3 linked regions of the Homo sapiens genome follow. The protein of the gene in region 2 interacts with the protein of the main gene of each other region in a pairwise test. Each region holds a gene or a part of one and is shown on either strand. Other genes may lie near its edges.

Evidence for each region.
Region 1: the proteins of AEBP2 (region 2) and TSPYL2 interact in binary tests that used the Homo sapiens proteins (3 or more experiments, as listed by UniProt).
Region 3: the proteins of AEBP2 (region 2) and HMBOX1 interact in binary tests that used the Homo sapiens proteins (3 or more experiments, as listed by UniProt).

What each region holds. Positions count from the first base shown.
Region 1 is NC_000023.11:53,078,067-53,085,374, reverse strand, and holds the start of TSPYL2 (testis-specific Y-encoded-like protein 2), read right to left. Parts: upstream 3,009-7,308; 5' UTR 2,877-3,008; coding exon 2,070-2,876; intron 831-2,069; coding exon 753-830; coding exon of another isoform or gene 621-752; coding exon 509-620; intron 422-508; coding exon 276-421; intron 149-275; coding exon 54-148; intron 1-53. UniProt on the Homo sapiens protein: Part of the CASK/TBR1/TSPYL2 transcriptional complex which modulates gene expression in response to neuronal synaptic activity, probably by facilitating nucleosome assembly. May inhibit cell proliferation by inducing p53-dependent CDKN1A expression.
Region 2 is NC_000012.12:19,442,485-19,449,593, reverse strand, and holds part of AEBP2 (zinc finger protein AEBP2), read right to left. Parts: intron 6,471-7,109; exon of another isoform or gene 6,355-6,470; intron 1-6,354. UniProt on the Homo sapiens protein: Acts as an accessory subunit for the core Polycomb repressive complex 2 (PRC2), which mediates histone H3K27 (H3K27me3) trimethylation on chromatin leading to transcriptional repression of the affected target gene.
Region 3 is NC_000008.11:29,012,318-29,019,426, forward strand, and holds part of HMBOX1 (homeobox-containing protein 1), read left to right. Parts: intron 1-2,717; exon of another isoform or gene 2,718-2,805; intron 2,806-6,442; coding exon 6,443-6,596; exon of another isoform or gene 6,597-7,109. UniProt on the Homo sapiens protein: Binds directly to 5'-TTAGGG-3' repeats in telomeric DNA. Associates with the telomerase complex at sites of active telomere processing and positively regulates telomere elongation.

The sequences.
Region 1 (7,308 bases), on a different chromosome or scaffold from region 2:
AGTCTTTTCCCCATCCCCAACAAACCACCTCTCAGCGACCAAACTCCCATTACCGTTTCTTCATTTCTTGCTTCTTTCTCTTTATCCTGGAGCCCCTTTCTCTCAGGTAGTAGCGTAGAGGGTTAACCCACAGATCATTCTTGATAATCTGTTGAAAAAGGGGAGAAGGAATAAGACAGCCATTAGTACAAGCTCCAGATCCTCCTCTTAATTCCCCACGCACCCAGGAACAAGCCTAGCAAGGCCTTCTCTGGTGATGCCAGGAAGGGCCCCACCTCAGCAATCCTGTCAGCCTCTGGGAGGCTATGGTTTGAGAACCAGCTGAAAAAGCTGTGGCTCGCATCCTGGTTCCCGTGACGACGGGCCTGGGGTTCCTGGCCCCGGTGCCAGCGGATTGGGGTTGAGTGAGACACCAGCCGGCCTAGGGAGAGAGAAGGCTATGGAGATGGGACAAAACAAGGACAGATTGAGGGGGGGAACATGGATTTACTCTGGTACTGCCACTTACCTGAGCGGTTGCGCTGGAACTCCTTGACAATCACCATGTTTGTGAAGTAGGGGTTAGTCTGGAAGTACAGCTTCATTTTGTAGCCCATGGAGATATGTCTGAGATCCTGTACCTGCTCCAGGTGGGGGTGATGGTGGAATCTGTCCCCCCCCCAACACACCACGGCCCTTCCCACCCACCTCCCGTCACCTCCAAGAACCAGATTCGTGCCCGATCCTACTAAAAAATGTCTCTCTGGCCTGACCTGCAGATTGGTCAAGTAGCGGAAAATGTCTTCATCACGTCGGTTGATCAAAATTGAAATTCTGGGGTGGTTGAGGAACTGATGAGTGGAGCAGTTTAGGTCAAGGATTGACTATTCCGTGAAAGGGAGGGAGGGAAGGCCAGGAAGGGCACAGTAAGAGAGGCTGGAGCATGAGGATTCCTTCTGTGCTTATGTGGTGTGTATAAAGCAAGTGAGTCATGGGACATAACCCATACTTATTCCCATGATAAACCTCTATGTTAGGTGGCCCTACAGGGTGTCGACAATCCATGTGCATGTGGTATATGTCACTGGGTGCTGAAAGCTTGTGTTCACAAAATGCACGTCTGGGGGCTTAAGGGCCATGTCCAAGTGATGCTGTAACTGATTGCTGAGGGCCTGTGGTCACGTTATTGTATGTATGGGTGTTGAAGGTCCATGTCCACATGATGTGTGAATGGCTCTGATGGCTTGTGGTCAAGTTATGCCATGTGTCTACATGCTGAGGACCTGTGGTCACATAATACTGTGTCTAGGAGCTGAGGTCCTATGTCTAAATGATATTGTATGCCTGGGTGCTAAGGGCCTCTTACCATGTGCTGTTTCATATGAGGGCTAAGGGTCTGTATCCACATAATTCTATTAGGATGTTCGACTCATGTTCCTAACATGTTACATGTATGTGTATGTGTCTACTCTCCCCTTTCCTTCATTTAACTCCTTTTTCTCTATACCTAGACACTCCCTCTCTTGATCTTTCAGGGGCTCCAGCCCCCCTCCCTCCAATGCAAGGCACTCCAGCCAGGATTGGGGTCTCCTAGTATCTTAAGCAAAAATCTAGGTTTACAGAGCCTTGTATGGCTCAAGCACCCTTTCTGGGCAGTTTCTCTGCTGTGTGCCATTCCCCTCCCTCTTCAAGGTCTCTGAGTCAGTTCATCTTCTACGTGCCCCTCCCCTCCTCCTTTCACCATCTCTGGTCCAATTTTTTTGCTGTGTGCCCCTTTACTACCCTCCCCCTTTTTATCATCTGTGATCCTTTTTTTAATGCTATGTTCCTCCTCTTCCCCCTTTCCCATCTGTGGTCCAGTTTTTATGTCCGCCCCCCCTCCACCACCCTTCATCATCTCCAGTCCAGCTTCTCTGCTGTTTTGCCCTCCTCCTTCCATCCCTCTTCCACCCAGTCTAGTCCGTCTTCCGATAGGGGGATCATGCCCACCTCTGGCTCTCCTCCACCCGCTTTACCTTTTCTGTCCCTCCCCCACCTTCCCCTTTCCTGTCACGGGCTTCTGACCTACGGAGTATCGATTAGAAGGATACTGCTTTGACCCAGAAGCCTGGGATATGCTGGATGATGAGGTCTCTGCGCTCCAGGAAGGGTCTTCGCATCTGGATGAACTTGCGCTTGAGACGCAGGAAGGCTTTGCCTGCCTTGATGTTCACTGCCTCCAGATCCAGCTGAATATCCTCCAGTGCCTGCAGGATGCTCTCCATCCTCTCGGCATTTCTCTCTCTGCTTTCCCTCTTCACCTTCCTCTGCTTCCTCCTCCGCCGCCGCCGCCGCCTCCTGCTGCTCCTCATACTCTCCCGCTCATCCTCATCCTCATCCTCCACTATGATGATCGCCTCTTCCTTGCTCTTCGGGTCAACTAACCTCTGGGGCGCCCACCCCACTGCGCTACAGGTTTCTAGGGCCCCCTCTCCACCAAAACTGCTCGACTGTACAACCTGAAAATCGATTTCCAGGCTCCCCCCCGAGGCCTCAGGAGTGGGGAGTGCTTCCAGGCTCTCCGTGGGCGGGGGCGCCTCCCCATACCCCGACTCGATGGTAGAATCCCAGCCGGGACACTCAGCACCGAGCGTGAAGTATGCGCGGATCCCCCCCTCCTCGAGAATGACATAGGGAGGCGGCGGGGGCAGCGCGGGGCCCAGTCCCACCCCCCTCATATCGGCCAGCACCTGTGCCGCCTCCGTTTCCTCCTGGAGCCTCGGGCGCTGCTGGGGTGGAGGCAGCGGCAGTCGGAGGAGCGGCGGCGGCGGCGGCGGCGGGGGCGGGTCGCGCTGTGGAGACTCGGAGCTGCTCAGGCGGCGGGTCTTGGCCGGAGGCCCCTCATCTGGGCGGTCCATGGCGACCGCGTTCGTACAGCTCAGGGGACTCGCACTCGCCCCTTCGCTTTTAGCCGCGTCGCTGCCGCTAGTCGCACCGGTAAGCAGAGCTGAGGAGACTCACGCAACCAGCTCTCCTCACCACCTCGCTCTGGCGTTCCCTCCCACAGCGCCCGCTCTACTCCCTCCGCGCCAATCGCCGAAGCCCCGCCCACTCCTGACGCAGGGGTCCGCTCGGCCTGGCCATTGGCTGCCGGCCGCCGCGGCGGCGATCGCGCTCCCGCGACCCCTGCCCGCTCTCACGCAATCCGCTTGCCAACACCACACATCATCAGTTTCCGATTGGCTCCCCTCGGGCCCGCCAATCAACGGGCTGACTCCCTCAGCGACGGGAGGGAAACTGCAGGGCGATTGGCTGCGAGGAAAGCTGGGGAAGAAGCCCCTCTCCCTCACCCTCTCAGCGTTTTATCCAATGGGAAAAGTACCAGTGGTTCTGAAGACCAAAAAACGAGACGAAAAACAAACGCAGGCGCTGAGCAGGATGTGCTCACATGAAATTGGAAGAGCCTCGTTATCGTTCCCCCCGCCCCCCTCCCCTCAGCAACTACGCACTTTTAAAATCTGCCCCTTCCCCCATTTCCTTCAGCTCCTTCCCCCACCCCCGCTTCTGCCCCTTCCCCCATCCCGGGTCCTGCCCCTTCCCCCATCCCAGCTCCTGCCCCTTCTCCCACCCCCGCTTCTGCCCCTTCTCCCATCCCCCACTGCTGCCCCTTTTTCCATCCCCGCTTCTGCCCCTTCCTCCACTCCCCGTTTCTGTCCCTTCCCCCACCCCCCGTTTCTGCCCCTTCCCCCATCCCCCGCTTCGGCCCCTTCCCCCACCCCACCCCCGCTTCTGCCCCTTCACCCCCCGCTTCTGCCCCTTCCTCCCCCGCTTCTGCCCCTTCCCTCACCCCCCCTTCTGCCCCTTCCCGCATTCCCTGCTTCTGACCCCCATCCCCCAACTGTCTCTTCCCTCACCCCCACTTCTGCCCCTTCCCCTATCCCCCAACTTCTGCCCCTTCCTTCACCCCCCAACCCCACTTCTGCCCCTTCCCTCACCCTCCCGCCCTCCGCTTCTGCCCTTCCCCTATCCCCCAACTTCTGCCCCTTCCCTCACACAACCCCTGCCCCCCGCCCCCCCGCTTCTGCCTCTTTTCCTACCTTCCACTTCTGCCCCTTCCCCCACCCCCCACGTTTGCCCCCTGGGTGAACTCTGCTGTAGCTCCTCGGGGGCTCGGGCTGCCCTACCGCCTGCGCCTGCAATTTAGGCACCCAGGGTGTTTGGTTTGGGGGCCAGGTTTTGACGTGGCGTTTTCCATCTCCGCAAAATGGCTCTACAAATAATAATCACACACACAAAAAAGTAACTTCCTCTGCGTCATAAAAATGATTGTGATTCAGCTCATCTGCTAGAATTTTCTAGCACTTTCTGTCTCTTCATTTCTCCCCCTTTCCATCCTTTCCTCTCCCTTTCCCCAGTGTATGCTGTATTTTAAGATTTTTCTTTTTAAACCAGAGATGGATGGTCTTTTGTGAGGCATGGTGGTGGAGGGCTGGCTTTGGTGCTGGGATTCACATCATGGGTGTGCCCCTCATTTTGTAACCTTAACCAAATCACTGCCCCTCTCTGAGCTTCAGTTTTCTCTCCCCTAAATTAGGCATCCCTCAAGAGAGGTGTAGGTAACTGCCCATTGCAGCCTTGTCGCGGAGCAGAGAGGAGACCTAGGGATCCATCATCAGGGGAGTGGATAAGAAAAATGTGATATATGTTTTAGATGGACCACTAGAATGAATTAGATCTATATACGGCAACATGGCTGGATCTCTCAAAGACAGAATGTTGAGTGAAAAAAGAAACAACAAGATTTATAGTACAATACTGTTTATGTAAATTAAAACACACAGCAATACCATACATTTTTCACAGATACACATATATGTAAATAAACACATGAACGGTGGATTGGAAGGACGTACGTTAAATACACGAGAGTGGGTGCCTGTGTAGGGGGCGGGGAGGATGGGATCAGGAATGGGTGATGAAGGGGACAAAACTGAAGAAAAAAAAATAAAAGGGCCTCACATGGACCAATGATGATATAGTGTGCCAAGAACTGAGGAGTATGGTCAACTCAATTCTGTGCACCTGAGAGAATAACCAGATAGTAAATTAACTGTCTAGGGAGCAGGCTGGCTGGGTAGACTCCTGGGCTTGGGTTTTTTTTCCCCATGACATCCCTCCCTCTAAATTTGGTCAAAGCTGACCAAAGTCCCAGCTGCATACAGTGGCCCCTAGGAAGGGCTCCCATCCCAGACTGAGCAGTCCCTCCAGAAGCCATTACTTTGTGGGGGGCATTTCCTAACCTCATCAGTTTCCCTCACATTTGATCCTCAATTCCCAGTCCCCATTCTCCATGGTGGTCCAATTTTAGGAACACCTTGTTTGAGTTTGGGAAGGAGACTGAGACGGGGTTGAGATGGGGCTACAGGCTTTGTGAGGAGATGAGGTTTTCAAGTTCCCTGGCGGCCCCAGCCCTCCCGTGCTCAGGGCCTGGGCCAAGGGAGGCCCATCTTGTGAGATGGGAGTCTACCCTCTTGCTACCGACCTATGTAGTTTCCAAGATCCATCTCTTGACCACTCGACTTCCTACCACGGGCACATACTCTAGTTTGTCTCCTCTCAACTGTGGTGTGTGTGTGTGTGTGTGTATGCATGCACGTGCTGTATCTGTCCCCATATACAGGCATTTTACGTGTGTGCACCGGGCAAGTTTTCTTCAGGAGTGCCTCCCCACACAAAGTCACACAGACACACACTATCACTCAATCATGTCTCTCCACATGTGGTCAGACAGGGCACATGCACGCACGCACGCACACACACACACACAGTCAGAAAGAGAAAACATCCAGTATAGCATTGTTCATTTCAGTTTTTCCATTTACAAAATCCAATGGTGAATCCAGGCAGTTAGAAAAAAGAAATGGAGGAAAACCCTCCTAAATGTACCCTATCTACCCCCCACCCCCTTGGTCTTCCCACCCCACCCCCTCGGAAAGGCACCCCCATCACTATCGCTGAGAGAACAGGCTCCCCTACTCCCAGCCTCTCAGCCACTCTGGCCTGCCTTTCCAGGGCCACTCTGCAGCCAGGCTCATTAATGTCTCTCCTGCCTAGAGTGCCCTCCCCATTCTGTATGGGTCAGGCTTCCCCAGTTCTGGGGCTCTCTTGGGCTAGGGAGGGAGTTTAGGACAGGGACTTCTATAAAGAAGGGAAAGGGGGATGGATAAATACAGATTCCGGCCCCACAGGAAGTGAGAGGGGGACAGAGAGCCTGGGTAAGACCAGGGCAAGGAGTGCCAGCTTGGCTCACCAATCCACAGAACAGGCCTCAAAGTAAGCCCAGAGTGGACTCCACCCCTGGGAGGAGGCTTGGATCTCCCTCCTGGAGAATCTGACTGCAGTGTGCTCCACTTTGGGTGTAGGTAAGGGTGGGGGAAGGATGGGGAAGGAGGGTTGTTGGGAAAGAAGGATGCTTGGGGCTCAGGGCCCAGTCAGCCAAGGGCTACTAAGGAGGGGCTTGAGGCCCCTGAGGCTTGAGGGGGACAAAAAGAGGTCAGATAGGAATGGACTCAAGTCCACAGTGCCTTGGAGTTTGTACCGCTATCGGTTACCAAGGCCCCAAACAAATTTTCATCTTCAGAAGAGTAGGGTGAACCCGAGAGACAATTCTGGGGTTGAAATCAGCTCTGACCCAAGTCTCTGTGGTCCAGCTACTCTGGGGAGTTCAGCTCCCTCCTTACACTTTCCTGGTGGGCTGCTCCTGCCTGTATGGCACCCACATCAGTCCTAGTGGGGCTGGAGTGGATTTCCATCCTCAGGAAGAAGAGTTGGGGGCTGGGGATCCTGAAGGCAGCGTGAGAGAATGTGACCAAGTGTGGGTCTCTTCAGTTCGAGGAGTTCAGCTCACATCTTACTCTTCACCTAACCTGGGCCCATCCTTGGGGCCCTTCTCCCTACTCCCTTGACTTCTCCAACAGATGCACAAGAACCATTTGGGAGGTCTGGACATGGTGGGGAGGGAGAAGAGACTGGGCTTGGGGCAAGGGTTGGCCTAAAACAACATTGCACATGACATAGTAATTAAACATCCCTGCTCCCTGGGAACCCAGCACCCCCTTTGGTCCCTCTTGTCAGCAGCCTTGGACCACTTTCTCCCTAAACATCCAGGCCTTGCTAAAGGACTTGGAAGGGGAGGGTGCATGGGAGCAGAGGGGGCAAAAGAGCTCTGGAAGTCTATTTTACAGGACAAATTCCCCCTTCTGGACAGTGTCAGAAGGAGAGACATTAAAGTAAGAAAGCCTGTCTCCTCAGCTGTTAGTAGAAAAACCTGCATTCTCAGTGTTCTTTTCT
Region 2 (7,109 bases):
AGACCCAGCAGCATTCACTAAATTGGCCAAAAGGGACTTTATGCAACAATGATGAAATATAGTCTATGGAAAACAAGTAGGCTACATTCTTTTATCACCACTACGCACTGAGCACATTACTTTAAATTTCTCATATCAAATCTATCACCCTTTAAGATTACTTCACCCACATTTTTCATCCAGCTTAAAATATCAGCCAGCAATTGATATCTTCACAAACACTAGAAACATTCCACTTCAACACAATTACACTAAGGAAGTTATCTTTACCTTTTCACAAACATTTCCAGAGAAATGTATATACACAAAGATGGTATGTTTAAAAAAAGAAATCCACTATGAAGAACACCCCCCATTTAATAAAGAAGCAATTGCATCTGAAGGTTTAATTAGTATTAAATCATAAAAAGATCTTTCCTAAGGAAATTTTGAGGAAAAATATCAGATGATTTCAGTATGCATTTCTGACAAGAATGACTACTGTCATTCTTGACTGAACACCTCAAAACACATGTTGATATAACAATTTCCAAGATTAATTTAAAACACTAAAAAATCTATTGCCAATTCATCTACTCTTTGTACTTTAAAAAATATTTATGAAAAGTAATGATGGCCAGGTGTGGTGGCTCACACCTGTAATCCCTGCACTTTGGGAGGCCAAGGTGGGAGGACTGCTTGAGCTCAGGGGTTCGAGACCAGCCTGGGCAACACACGGAGACCCCATCTCTACAAAAAATGAAAAAAGCAGCTGGGCATGGTAGTGCATGCCTGTAGCTCCAGCTATTTGGAAGGCTGAGGCAGGACAGTCACTTGGGTCCAGGAGTTTGAGGCTGCAGTGAGCTGTGACGGTACCACTGCACTCCAGCCTGAGTGACAGAGCAAGACCCTGTCTCGAAGTACAAACAAAACAAAAAAAAACTGTTCTCTTTTTCTTTAATCAGCCACACTAATGAAACTGAGAAAGAAATATGCAATCAGGTATTTCCACATTAAGTTGAATTCAACCAATTACTGAGAATGAATACAGGCTACGACATACTGAGTGAGTGCAGAAGGCAAGTTCTGCAAGTATATATGAGACCTGATCTTTACTTTTTTTTTTTTTTGAGATGGAGTCTTGCTCTGTTGCCCAGGCTGGAGCACAATGGCACGATCTCAGATCACTGCAACCTCCACCTCCCGGGTTCAAGCTATTCTCCTGCCTCAGCCTCCCAAGTAGCTGGGATTACAGGCATGCGCCTAATTTTTGTATTTTTACTACGGATGTGAGCCACCATGTCCGGCCTGATCTTTACTTTTAAAATGTTATAGCCTAGAGGAAATAAACACAAATGGATATTTCAATACAACATCATAAATATGAAGTAGAAATATGATGACTTCTGGCAAGGCACAGTGGCTCACGCCTGTAATCCCAGCACTTTGGGAGGTCAAGCAGAGAGAATCACTGGAGCCCAAGAGTTGAAAACCAGTCTCGGCAACATAGCAAGACCTAGTCTCCATTTTCAAAAATAAAAAAATGTTTTAAAAAGAAATATGGTGATTTTTAAACCCAAAAGAACCTACCTAAGATATCCTTGAGATCCTGGATATAACAAAGCCACACACGGCAATATTCCGAGTTTGTCTAAAGAAGATAATCCATTATCTATTTGTTTAACTGTATTTAAAGTACTTGCCAACTCTACAGCAGCACCCTCGCATTCGAGCTCCAAATTACTTTATACTGTTTTGTCAAAAACCCTCATTTTTAAGAAAAAGAATCAATCTGAGCTTCACAGAAATAAACAATTTGCCACATTTCCTGACGGCAATAAAGTCAAGACTACAATACTGATCGCTTATCCTCAGCTGGAGTATTCTTTCCACTGCACCATCTCTGCATGAGAAATGGGGATATATAAATGACTCTACGAAGTAAATACGTAACCCCTTTGCATGTCATCTCACTTAATCCTAACACTGCTCCTATTTTACAGATAAGGAAGCAACTTCTGAGAAGTTAGATTACGTCCATGCTCTTTCACTACTCAATGTTCCTTTAGTTATTCTAGTGACGGTTGTGTCTGGAAAAACAATGCAAACTATTGTTCAAATTAAATCCTCAAGAAAACGTATTCAGAAATAACGTTTACATAGCCAGGTGCTACAGATAAAGTGCCAATCAAGATAGACATGGTTTTTCTTCTCAGGGAGCACACAACCCAGCAGTGGAGATAAATGGTAAACAATTACCCATATTGGGGTGAGGGCAAGAAAGAACTCGGAATGCTGACAATATGTCTAACAAGGAACCAGCCTGTTCAACGTAAGACTTGAATGTGAACTAGGGAATTACACAGAAAGAAAGTGAAGAGAATAAAAAGAATTTGATTCACAAACCTATACTGAGAGACGTACACACTTGTGTTGGCATGAAAGGCCTCACTTGCACCATTAATTCTTACTTCCCAGGTCCAGTGGCGCATCCTTAGATGTTGGCAGGAAGTCTCCTGAACATGCTACGCTCATTCCTGCCTACATGTTTTCAGTTAGGCTTTCTAGAATTCTCTCTTCATCATTTACGCAAGCCTAAAATCTGTCCCCCTTCCCACACAAAATCTTTAGTCACTAACTATACAACACGTTCCAACTCTAATTTTTTTGTTTTTTTGTTTTTTTGTTTTTTGTGAGAGTCTTGCTGTCACCCAGGTTTGACTACAGTGGCACAATCACAGCTCACTGCAGCCTCAGACTCCTGGATCCAAGTGATCCTCCTGCCTCAGCCTTTCAAGTAGCTAGGAATTGAGGCATGTGACACCACATCTGGCTAATTTTTTCATTTTTTGTAGATGAGATCTTTTTTTTTTTTTTTTTTTGGAAACGGAGTCTCGCTCTGTCGCCCAGGCTGGAGTGCAGTGGCGCAAACTCTGCTCACTGCAAGCTCCGCCTCCTGGGTTCACGCCGTTCTCCTGCCTCAGTCTCCCAAGTAGCTGGGACTACAGGTGCCCGCCACCACGCCCAGCTAATTTTTTTCTGTATTTTTAGTAGAGACGGGGTTTCACCGTGTTAGCCAGGATGGTCTTGATCTCCTGACCTTGTGATCTGCCTGCTTCAGCCTCCAAAAGTGCTGGGATTACAGGCGTGAGCTACCGTGTCCCGCCTGTAGATGGGATCTTGTTACACTGTCCTGGCTGGTCTCGAACCCCTAGGCTCAAGGGATCCTCCCACCTTGGCCTTCCAAAGTGCAGGGATGACAGGTGTGAGTAACCATACCTGCCTCCAGTTCTAATTTGAATGCACCATGTCGCAATTTACAGAAAAAACAGAATACAATAATCTCTTTAGCCTGCTCTTTAAAAACAAAGTATCTGAGGAGATACCGTCATGTTTCTTATCACTAAATGGGGCGCAATGGGTCTTAGTATTTAAGACCAATATAATTACTACTTTCACAAATACAAACTATTCATCGCAAAAATAAATTAATCATAGGTTAGACCACTGCCATTACTAGAAAACTTATTCCAAAACTTTTTACCAATAGATAACTGGCATGCTTGCTTCAGCAACATATATGATAAACTTGGAACAATACAGAGAAAATGAGCATGGCCCCTGCACAAGGATGACATGCAAATTCATGAAGCATTCCATTTCTTTTCTAATTGTTTTTAATATGTACGTTCAGCTAGTTATCGTCCAAAAAAAAGAAAGCTAGTTATATTTTTTTATAACTAGCTGCACGTACATATTAAAAACAATTTAAAATGAAAGGTTTCATATGAAGGCTTTTAGGCCCACCACAGAACAGTCATAGAAAACTGATTAAAATGTACATGCTGTAATCAAATATTTTAGTCTACCATATCCTTTTGCAAATTTCTGCAACACTCATTTGCAGACTCTTGTCATACATCTAACACCTGATTGATACAGTACTTTTGGGCATTCCAGATCGTACAGCACTTCACAATAACAGACGTTACTAGCTATTATCAATTCATTTGTGCAGTGATTCTCTCTGCCACTCATGAGGTAAGGGTTTTGTTTTATACCCTGCTGTATCCCCAGCATTTAGAAGAGTACCTGGCATGAGGCCGGGCACGGTGGCTCATGCCCATAATCCCGGCACTTTGGGAGGCCGAGGCAAGCGGATCATTTGAGGTCAAGAGTTTGAGACCAGCCTGGCCAACATGGTGCAACCCTCTCTACTAAAAATACAAAAAAAAAAAAAAAAAGAAAACGAGCAGGGCACGGTGGCATGCGCCTGTAATCCCAGATACTCAGGAGGCTGAGGCAGGAGAATTGCTTGAACCCGGGAGGCAGAGGCTGCCGTGAGCCAAGATCGCACCACTGCACTCCAGCCTGGGTGACAGAGTGAGACCCTATATCAAAAAAAATAAAGCATCTGTCACATAACATGGATTCTATATACATCTGTAGAATATACCCATCACACAGTAAACACTTAATGAACGTGTACCAAATACTCTACAATTCACATTGCAATCTTACAGGATAGGAACCATTATTGTCCCCCTTTCATAGACAAGAGACCTCAAGTAGTAAGACGTTAAATAAATACTACTGTTGGGCCAGGTGCCTGTGGTCCCAGCTACTCAGGAGGCAGAGGCTGCAGTGAGCTGAGATCGCGCCACTGCACTCCAGCCTGCGTGACAGAGCAAGACTCTGTCTCAAAATAAATACATAAATGCATACATACATACTACTGTTGGTATTCTCAATTTAATGCTAGTAATTAATGGAGTATTCACCACACCCAAGATATTATGTTAGGTACTTACAAAGATACTAAAAAAGCAAAAATGTCCCTGCCCTCCAAAATACCATTCTACAACAGAAAAGATGCACGCATTCAAGCAACGTGGATGGATTCCTCCAAACAGTTCACAGCGCTCTTTAACAGAAATTATTTCACTTGAACCACAAAACAACACTTCAGAGTAATACCTGTTTTGTAGTTGAGGAACTAAAGTTCAAAGATATACTACTCAAAAATTGAAATATAGGCAGTAATATTAAGATTTGCGCCAGGTCTGGTGGTTCATGCTCAGGCTAGTCTCCTGACCTCATGTGATCTGCCCTCCTCGGCCTCCCAAAGTGCTGGAATCACAGGTGTGGGCCACATGCCTGGCCAAGAGTACTTTCATATATTAACTGATTCAATAGCTAGTACTAATTTGTTAACTAACTCCACGGGCATTTTAAATATTAAAATTCCATTTAAAAGCTAATTTACTACTTGAACTTGAGACTGTCTTCTATTTTCTCGGCATTAACTTTTTTAGCATAAATACACGTTCAGTAACAAGTGCTGACATTTGATCACTTTTTGGATGACTCATTCATTCAACCATATTTTAAACTATTTTTACATGATACTGTGTTGGAAGAATGAAAATAAAATTATGTTTAAAATTTTTTAAATTTTTTTTAAAGTTACCATAGCCTCTGAAATTAACCTAAGAGCATAACTTTTTTAAAAAGTACTTCAGCTTCACTGAAGAGAAAAAAAGTTCAGAGTAAAGAAAAGCTAGTTTTTAGCGGTTTCACATAGCTAAATACTTCTCCCTACTATCTTTATAACCAAAATACTTCTCCCTACTATCTTTATAACCAAAGTAAAAATAAAATTACATATAAATTTCAAGAATTTCTAAATTTACTAAAATAAACACGCTATAAACTTACACTGGTTTTGAAAAACTTTCTTCTGGGGGGAAAAAAATCAACTTTTTGTACCAAGTGGTATTTAATCATTTCATAAATTAGTCACTTTTTACCACAAAACCTTCCAATACCATAAATGACATCTCAGGTCATAACCTCTAATATCTATGTCTTTATATTTAATTATCTTTTTTTGAGATGGAGTCTTGCTCTGTCGCCCACGCTGGAGTGCAGTGGTGCAATCTCAGCTCACTGTAACCTCCGCCTCCCAGATTCAAGCCATTCTCCTGCCCCAGCCTCCTGAGTAGCTGGGATTACATGCCTGCACCACCATGCCTGGCTCATTTTTTTGTATTTTTAGTAGAGATGGGGTTTCACCATGTTGTCCAGGCTGGTCTTGGAATTCCTTGACCTCAAATGATCCACCCGACTCGGCCTCCCAAAGTGCTGGGATTACAGGGGTGAGCCACCATGCCCGGCCTAATTATCTTTTTAAAAGTAGCACTTAAGATATTTAACATGGCCTGCGGTGGCGGCTCACTCCTGTAATCCCAGCACTTTGGAAGACCCAGGTGGGAGGATCATTTGAGGTCAAGGAATTTCAAGACCAGCCTGGACAACATGGTGAAATCGCATCTCTACTAAAAACAAAAATTAGCCAGGGGTGGTGGCACTCACCTGTAATCCCAGTTACTCAGGAGGCTGAGGAAGGAGAATCGCTTGAACCCACAAGGCAGAGGTTGCAGTGAGCCGAGATCGTACCACTGCACTCCAGCCTGGGCGATAGAGTGAGACTCGTCTCAAAAAAAAAAAAGAAAAAGATATTTAACAAAGATGTTCAACAAATTCTAGAGCATATCAGATAAACTAAAAAGCACAACGTAACCAAAACGATGGGAAAGGTAAATGGGCATTATAATAGAATCTTTGTAATAGGAATGCCTAAAAATGTTATAGAGCACTTTAAAACTAAGATTATCCTTCCACTGGTTACAAAAATGAAGTTTTCTTACCATGAAATCAACCTATAAAATCCACAGATTGATGTAATCTACAGTAATTTATAAGAATTAGGGATCCTTTCCAAACTCAAAATAACTGGGAGAAAAATCTCAAAGGCAACAAGAAGATGTTTCAGAATTAAGATTATTAAGACCCCAAGCCAGTTTCACTAGTAAGCCTTCTTCATACAAGTGACAAATCTATTACCCTGAAATGGTGACATTAAAAACAGTATTCTGTAGTCTCTAAAATTAAGCATTAAGAAAACCAAGTTTGCTTGGTTATCAAGTTTTAACTGTAGTTGGATTTGTGACACCCGTATTTTACTTCTTATTCTGAAATAAGATGTAAAAATTATATACTCAAGTAAATATCTCATTAATGTCAAATAAAAGCCACAACTCCACTTCCTAAATGTACTTAACCAATAA
Region 3 (7,109 bases), on a different chromosome or scaffold from region 2:
CATTGCAAGTCATTTCAGACCTGATTGGAATCCACCCAGATGTCCCTCAGTTGAGAACTGGTTAAATAAATTAATGGCACATCTGTACAATGGAATCTTATGGAGCCATATAACTACTTTTTGAAGGCAGCTTTATATGAATTAAATTTATATGAGGTGATATGGAATTCATAAGTAAAAAAGGTACATAACAGTATCAAGGGCATATTTATGTAGGGGAACACACACACATACACATGTATATGCTTATCTAAGCATAGAAATCTCTGAAAAGCTGTGTTAGGAACTGGGAAGAATAGCTCTGTGGAGGGGAACTGAGTGACTGGGAGTACAGGGGTAAGGAGTTAACTACACAGCCTAATGTGTCTTTCTAAATTTCATACTATGTACTTGTATTATATATTTGAAAAATAAAGTGTAATAGGAAGGGGGAGACAGACCAAAAGAAATCAATCTGCCTTGTAAGATTAAAAAGAAAGAAAGAAAAGGAAGAAAAACTTAGGTTTATACAGTCCAGACCTGCTTTTGAGAAGCAGGTAGAAAATAAGTTGTCAGTGATTTTTATCAAGTAATTCTTTTATTTCATAATTTTTTTTTCTGTCTAGGAAAGATAGCTCTTTAGGGTAAATGTAAATAGTGTGATCCCTTTACATATATTCTGAGAAGAAAATGCAAAATTAAGAAAAGTCACAAAATGAAAAACTACTTTTTCTTTTTTCTTCTGTAAATTTAAGCATTTAGAAAACAAAAATGTTTGTATATTCTATGACTCTATTCCTGGGCGTTGGAGCATTTCTCTTTGTATACTTTGAGTGAAGTCCTTTTGTTGTTGTTGTTGAGACAGAGTCTAGCTCTGCCACCAGGCTGGAGTGCAGTGGCGCAATCTTGGCTCACTGCAACTTCTGCCTTTCGGGTTCAAGCAATTCTCCTGCCTCAGCCTCAGGAGTAGCTGGGATTACAGGCACGTGCCGCCACGCCCAGCTGATTTTTGTGTTTTTAGTAGAGATGGGGTTTCACCATGTTGGCCAGGCTGGTCTTGAACTCCTGACCTCGTGATCCACCCACCTCGGCTTTCCAAAGTGCTGGGATTATAGGCATGAGCCACCGCACCCAGCGGAAGTTCTTTTTTTCAACCTCTTCAGTCTGGATCCAGTTGTATATGGCTTTTGGTTTTTTGTAAGTTTCTCTTTAAGTGGACTCATCAAGAAAAATAATAGAATGGATATTTAGGTTAATTTTACTGATAACCCGATTGATATAGTGTAGTTCTCTGATAACAGACTCATCATCAGAATTTACCAGCATAAATGAAAGCCTGCCAAGGCATATTAATAAAATAGGCTGATGGAAACTAATCAAATACATTTTATCTTGTTTCTTATGAAAACACTTATAAGAAAATACCTATTTTTTAAAAAAAAGTGAGTGCTAAATTCAGGATGGTTGACATCAAAAGTCCCTTTATTTAATCAAATTAAGTTCACAGTCTTTTTCCCTTGTCTAATTTAAACATTACTATAGCAGACAGGGTTTGCTGAGTTCCTCTTGGCATGTGGTGCATATTCTGCATGCTTCTAAACAATTAAATAAAATTTGCCAAGAGGGTTATGCAGCAAATACATGAGATAAATGTCATCAGAAGAAACATCCAGTCCTTCACTTGCAGAGTGTTAGATCTCAGGGAAACGTGTGTGACATGGGGGAAGATGTGAAATTACTTTTGGAGAGGTTAGTTCCTATGGATGGCGTAGTAATGATGTGCTTATAGTCCCCTCACCCAGAGCTAACCCTGATCAGCAAGGACATTATGATATATGTAAAGAGAACACTTACCAAATTTTTATATGTCTTAACAAGTTATGAAAAGAGTTTTGGGTTTTTTTTTTCCTCATGGGTTTAGATTTGCTAGGTGAAGGTGCAAAATTTTGTTTTAATGGAAACTTAGATGGGGGGAAAAAAGATTTCTGTAAGGAAATAGACAACACACTTTTCCTGTTAGGACCTTAGCCAACCCAGAATTCCTGTATTTTACTTCAGAGGAGTTTAAAGGCTTAAATACATTGTTCCTGCATTCTAGTGTCTTTGTGTTTTTCTGTTAGAGTCAGTAATTTTGAACTCGCTCTTGCTTTTCATCCATTTCAACCAAAGCAAGATGAACTAAGGTTTCCAGAACAAATCTGTTATTAATAGAGTGTTTCCAGAGTACTTTTTTGTGCTGTTTTTAACTACTGCTACATTGAAAAAGAAAAAGGAGCCAGAAAAAAATCTGAAAAGTAATGTAACATTATGTTTTAAAGTAGGTATTTTGATGAATTTAAGATTATTCATTTTTCACCTTCTGTGTGTAAACTGTCTTGATTTCTTTTTTTTCCCCCACCCCGAGATGGAGTATCACTCTGTCGCCCAGGCTGGAGTGCAGTGGCACGATCTTGGCTCACTGCAACCTCTGCCTCCTGGGTTCAAGCGATTCTCCTGCCTCGGCCTCCTGAGTAGCTGGGATTACAGGCGTGTGCCACCACACCCAGCAAATTTTTGTATTTTTAGTACAGACAGGGTTTCACCATGTTGGTCAGGCTGGTCTCAAACTCCTGACCTCAGGTGTTCCGCCCGCCTCAGCCTCCTAAAGTGCTGGGATTACAGGCATGAGCCACCGCGCCCGGCCTTGATTTCTTTCAAAATAACCAGGCCACTACTTACTTTTCTGTCTTCTTTTTCTCCTTTTTTCTTCTCCCCTCTTCCTTTTCCTTCCTGCCCAGTTTTATTTCATCTGAATTTCCTTCAGTTCTTGAGACTGTCTTGACAATACTGAATATTACAAAGAAGCATAATATTAATAATAAACCCCAATACCAAGAAAGAACCATTATTATTAGTTGGCTTATTTCCTTCAACCTCTTGGTTAGGATTCTTTCTGTTCTGTGTTCTATTTGTACCCATTTACCACTCTGCTTACTAAGGAGCATGCCGCAATTATGGATGTGGCCTACTACCTGGAATTCACTGACCTATTGCCCACCCTCCATCCTGAAGCTCTTTCTTTCTTTACAAGGGTCAGCCCCTGGACAAGAGGTTGTATTCCCTTACTGAGTCTTATTTCTACCTTTATCTTGATCAGCCATGATAACCGGTTGGCTCTGTTTTAGTCCTTTTCACCCTTGCTATAGAATAACATTTATATAATTTTAATTAGGTAGATTCCAGAGCTCTTGCTGTGCTGTAATCCCTACTTGTTTTCAGAAAAGCACTATAAGACTGTGAAACCCTCCAGCCCCCAAATTCCTGCTTATGTCTAAACTTAGTTAACTTTCAATTAGGCCCAGACTGAATTCTCAGTTTATTTTGGCAGAATGAAACCCTTTTAAATTGTTTAAAGAAGGGTTTCAGTTTAGAATTTCATGTTGGGTAGAGCAGAAATGTTTTTAAACCAGGGGTTGGCAAACTTCATATAAAGGGCCAGACAGTAAATATTTTAGGTTTTGCAGGTTATATGATCTCTATCATAGCTACTCAGCTCTTCTGCTCCAGTGCATTCATAGCCATAGACAATCTGTAAATGAATGAGCATGAGCATGTTTCAATAAAACTTTATTTACAAAAATAGGCAGTGGGTATAATTTGCCAACTCTGTTTTAGGGTGGGCTGTAAATCTCTAAAGCATTATATGATGACAAACTTACTTGTTTAAGCAGAAATGTTAAGTAGTTAAATATTTACTTTCCATCACATGCTATAAGAAATCACATACATATTAAAGGCTGAAACACAAAATGAAAGATATAAAGATACTCAGTGATATTCAAGCCCATTGGCCATAATACAAAAGACTGACAAATTTGACTGTATTAAAATTAAGATCACAAAGCACACTATAAAAAACAAATGACAGACCAGAAAAAAATTGCATTCTGTATGACTAGCAATTGCTATGATTTCTCTGCACCCATAAGAAGAATAACCCCCTAAAAAAGGAACAACAGATAGAAATTCACAAGAAAAGATATAAATGGTCAATAAACAGGAAAAGATGCTCATTCTTATTAGTAGTGAAGTCTCTATATTAAAGGGAAATTTTTTGCTGCCAAATTTATACATTTGAATAATTAATAATAGTGTATTGGGGGATAAAGGGAAATAAACAACTGAGGATGATTGTGATAATTTTTATTAGTTATCTATTCTTATACAATAAATTATCCACAATTTAGCAGCTTAACACAACCAGCATTTATTATCTCATAGTTTTCATAGATCAGGAATCCAGGAATGGCTTAGCTGGTTGTTTCTGGCTCAGAGTTCTGTAGAGGTTGCTGTCCAGCTGTCAGCCTGGGCTGCAGTCATTGGGACTGGATGGTCCACTTGGAAACTCACTCATGTGGATGTGGACAGGTCCCAGGTCCTCACTGCCTGTTGGTCAGAGACATCAGTTCCTCACAACATGGGCCTCACCATCCACTGCCTGAGTGTCCTCACACGGCAGCTAGTTTTCCCTTGAGTGAATAAGAGAGAAAGCATCCAAGACAGATGTCATAGTGTCTTCTGTATTCTGATCCTTGAAGTGACATACCATCACTGCCACATGCTGTTGGTCGCACAGCCTAATCATGGTGCAGTGTGGGAAGGGACTATACGGAGGTGTGCAGACCAGGAGGCAGGGATCCTTAGGGACCTTGGAGGTTGATGTCCACATTCCTGTGCTGGGACTGAATGTCTGAGGCCTTGTTTCTGTCTATCACCTGGTTTCTGCACTTCTCCATGTGGCATTTGCTGTGGCTACAGTGTCCAAGATGGCATTTTCTCTCAAATGCTGGCACCTGGGTGGAGTTGGCAGAAGACCCTGGGGACTGTCAGAGCATCTTTCACTCCATGTAGCCTCTCCACATGGCTATCCTGGGCTTCCTTACAACATCATAGTCTCAGGTTAGTCAGACTTCTTATATGGCCTCTGGTTTCCCCCAGAGCCAGCATTTTAGGAGACCTAGGCAGAAATTTCAAAGCATCTTATAACCTAGCCTTGAATTGTTTAGATTTTCTTGCTCAACAACCTGTCACAGGACTGGCCCAGATTCAAGGGCATGATTAGCCAGAGGTATGACTTACTGTGAGGAGCCGTCTTTGAAACTTGTCCCAGGAAACCATGATTGTGAAAGATGATGCTGACGTGTTCTAAAAGTAGTAGCAGTGCAAGGAATAAAAATTGATCTGATACTGGAAATATTTTGAAGATAAAATGAACTTGCCTATGAATTAGTTATGTATAGGTGGGATAATTAGAGAAGTGAAAGATTAATTTGAGAATTTTGAGCTGAGTGGTTTGAAGAGTGGGTATCTATTTACTGAGATGGGAAAGACTGCAGGACAATAGGTTTGAAAAGCAAAATCAGGATTGATTAACATTTTGGACATCTGTGTAAGAGAATACATCTAAAGATGTAGCTATTAAGAAGGGGATCTACAATAGATCTGTAAGTCTTGAAGTAGAAATGCTATCCATGGTATTATTTGCAAGGTACAATAAAGAGAGTATTAATTCTATTAGGAAGAAATAAATATTAATATCATTAACATAGAATTAACATATTTATTAATATTGCATAAACCTACATGTTCTAACATGTCTTTCTACACCTGTGTTAAGCATTTGAATTAAACTACAGGCAGAGAGAATTTTTTGAAGGTTTTTGATTAGAAGACCGATATGATCATAATTATGTTTTGGGAAGATGAATTTAACAGTGTAAGGAGTGAAAGAAGAGTGGGGTAGCCAGGGACTGAACTCTATGAAAGCATACCAAGTTACATTGAAAGTCTATGAAATAAGTTCATGGAGGTCACAGACAATGTTGCTTTCCTGGTTTTATTCTTAGCTTCTAGCCTAGAGCAAGCCACTTGAAAGGGATTTGTTAAATAGTGAATGAATGAATAAATGCATCATTGGCAGTTCAAGCTATTTGAGAAAAGAGTAATCTGAATTAGTAAAATGTCTCAATTATAGATATTTTTCATTGAAATTTTATTATGTTCAGGAGGTAACAGAATCTAGTATAGCATCAACAGGTAGACCTATGGAGACCTGATTTAGTTAGTAGACAAAAAGCATATCAAATATCATCTTATTTTCTTTCATGCTGTATTTCACTCTTTAAAAAAGAAAAGAGTTTACAAGAATTAGGGTTATTTTAAGTTTGTCTCCTACCTGCATAAATTCCTTAAGCTTATAACTTATTTGAATGGTTAGTAAAAGATTCTGAACATCTGAGGTATATTGTTCAAAAAGAGTATAACTATCAAGCAGGAATTTCAAAAGAAATTTTTCAGAGAAAGATACATTGATTAAGTTGTCACTAAGCCAAAGACCATACTTCCCTAGTCCCATAGGAAGTAGATGTTATATTGTTTTAAATAAACTGCAAGATATTTGCTAAAAGTGTCTTGTTTATTTCAGGCGCTACACTAAGTATGAGACCAGCCCCCATTCCAATAGAGGACCCTGAATGGAGACAAACGCCTCCCCCAGTCTCTGCCACATCTGGTACTTTCCGACTGCGACGAGGGAGTCGATTTACCTGGAGAAAGGAGTGCCTGGCTGTTATGGAAAGGTATGTGTCTCCTTTTTCTACGAATGATCTCCCAAACTTAGGGAAGACATCAACTCTGGATAGACTGGGACAGTTTTCATTTCAAACAAGTAACTTGGTATCTTGGTTCTATCTCTAAAAGTACTTTAGAATATCATAAATGCTGTATTATAGAAATAAGGTCATCTTAGCATTGAGAATTCATAAAGCTGGAGTTAGCATCTGTCAATTTATTTTACTTATAATAGTGTCCCCAGTAATTTAAGAAATGTTGGAATAAATATTTTTTGAATTCAGATCTTTGTATTATATTTTGGAAAAACTCTTTGAAGTCTTCTTTTCATCAAAAATAATGAATAATTGTATAGGAGACTACTGAGATTTAACTTTCCTTTAATAAGGAGTATGGTCTAAGTAAGCTTTGTCCCAAAGGTTAAAAATACTTATTTTTGACTTTGTTTTAGTAATTTATCCTCTCATTCTGTCACCAGTACCTGATCCATAGTAGGCACTCAGTGGTTTTTTTTTTAACCT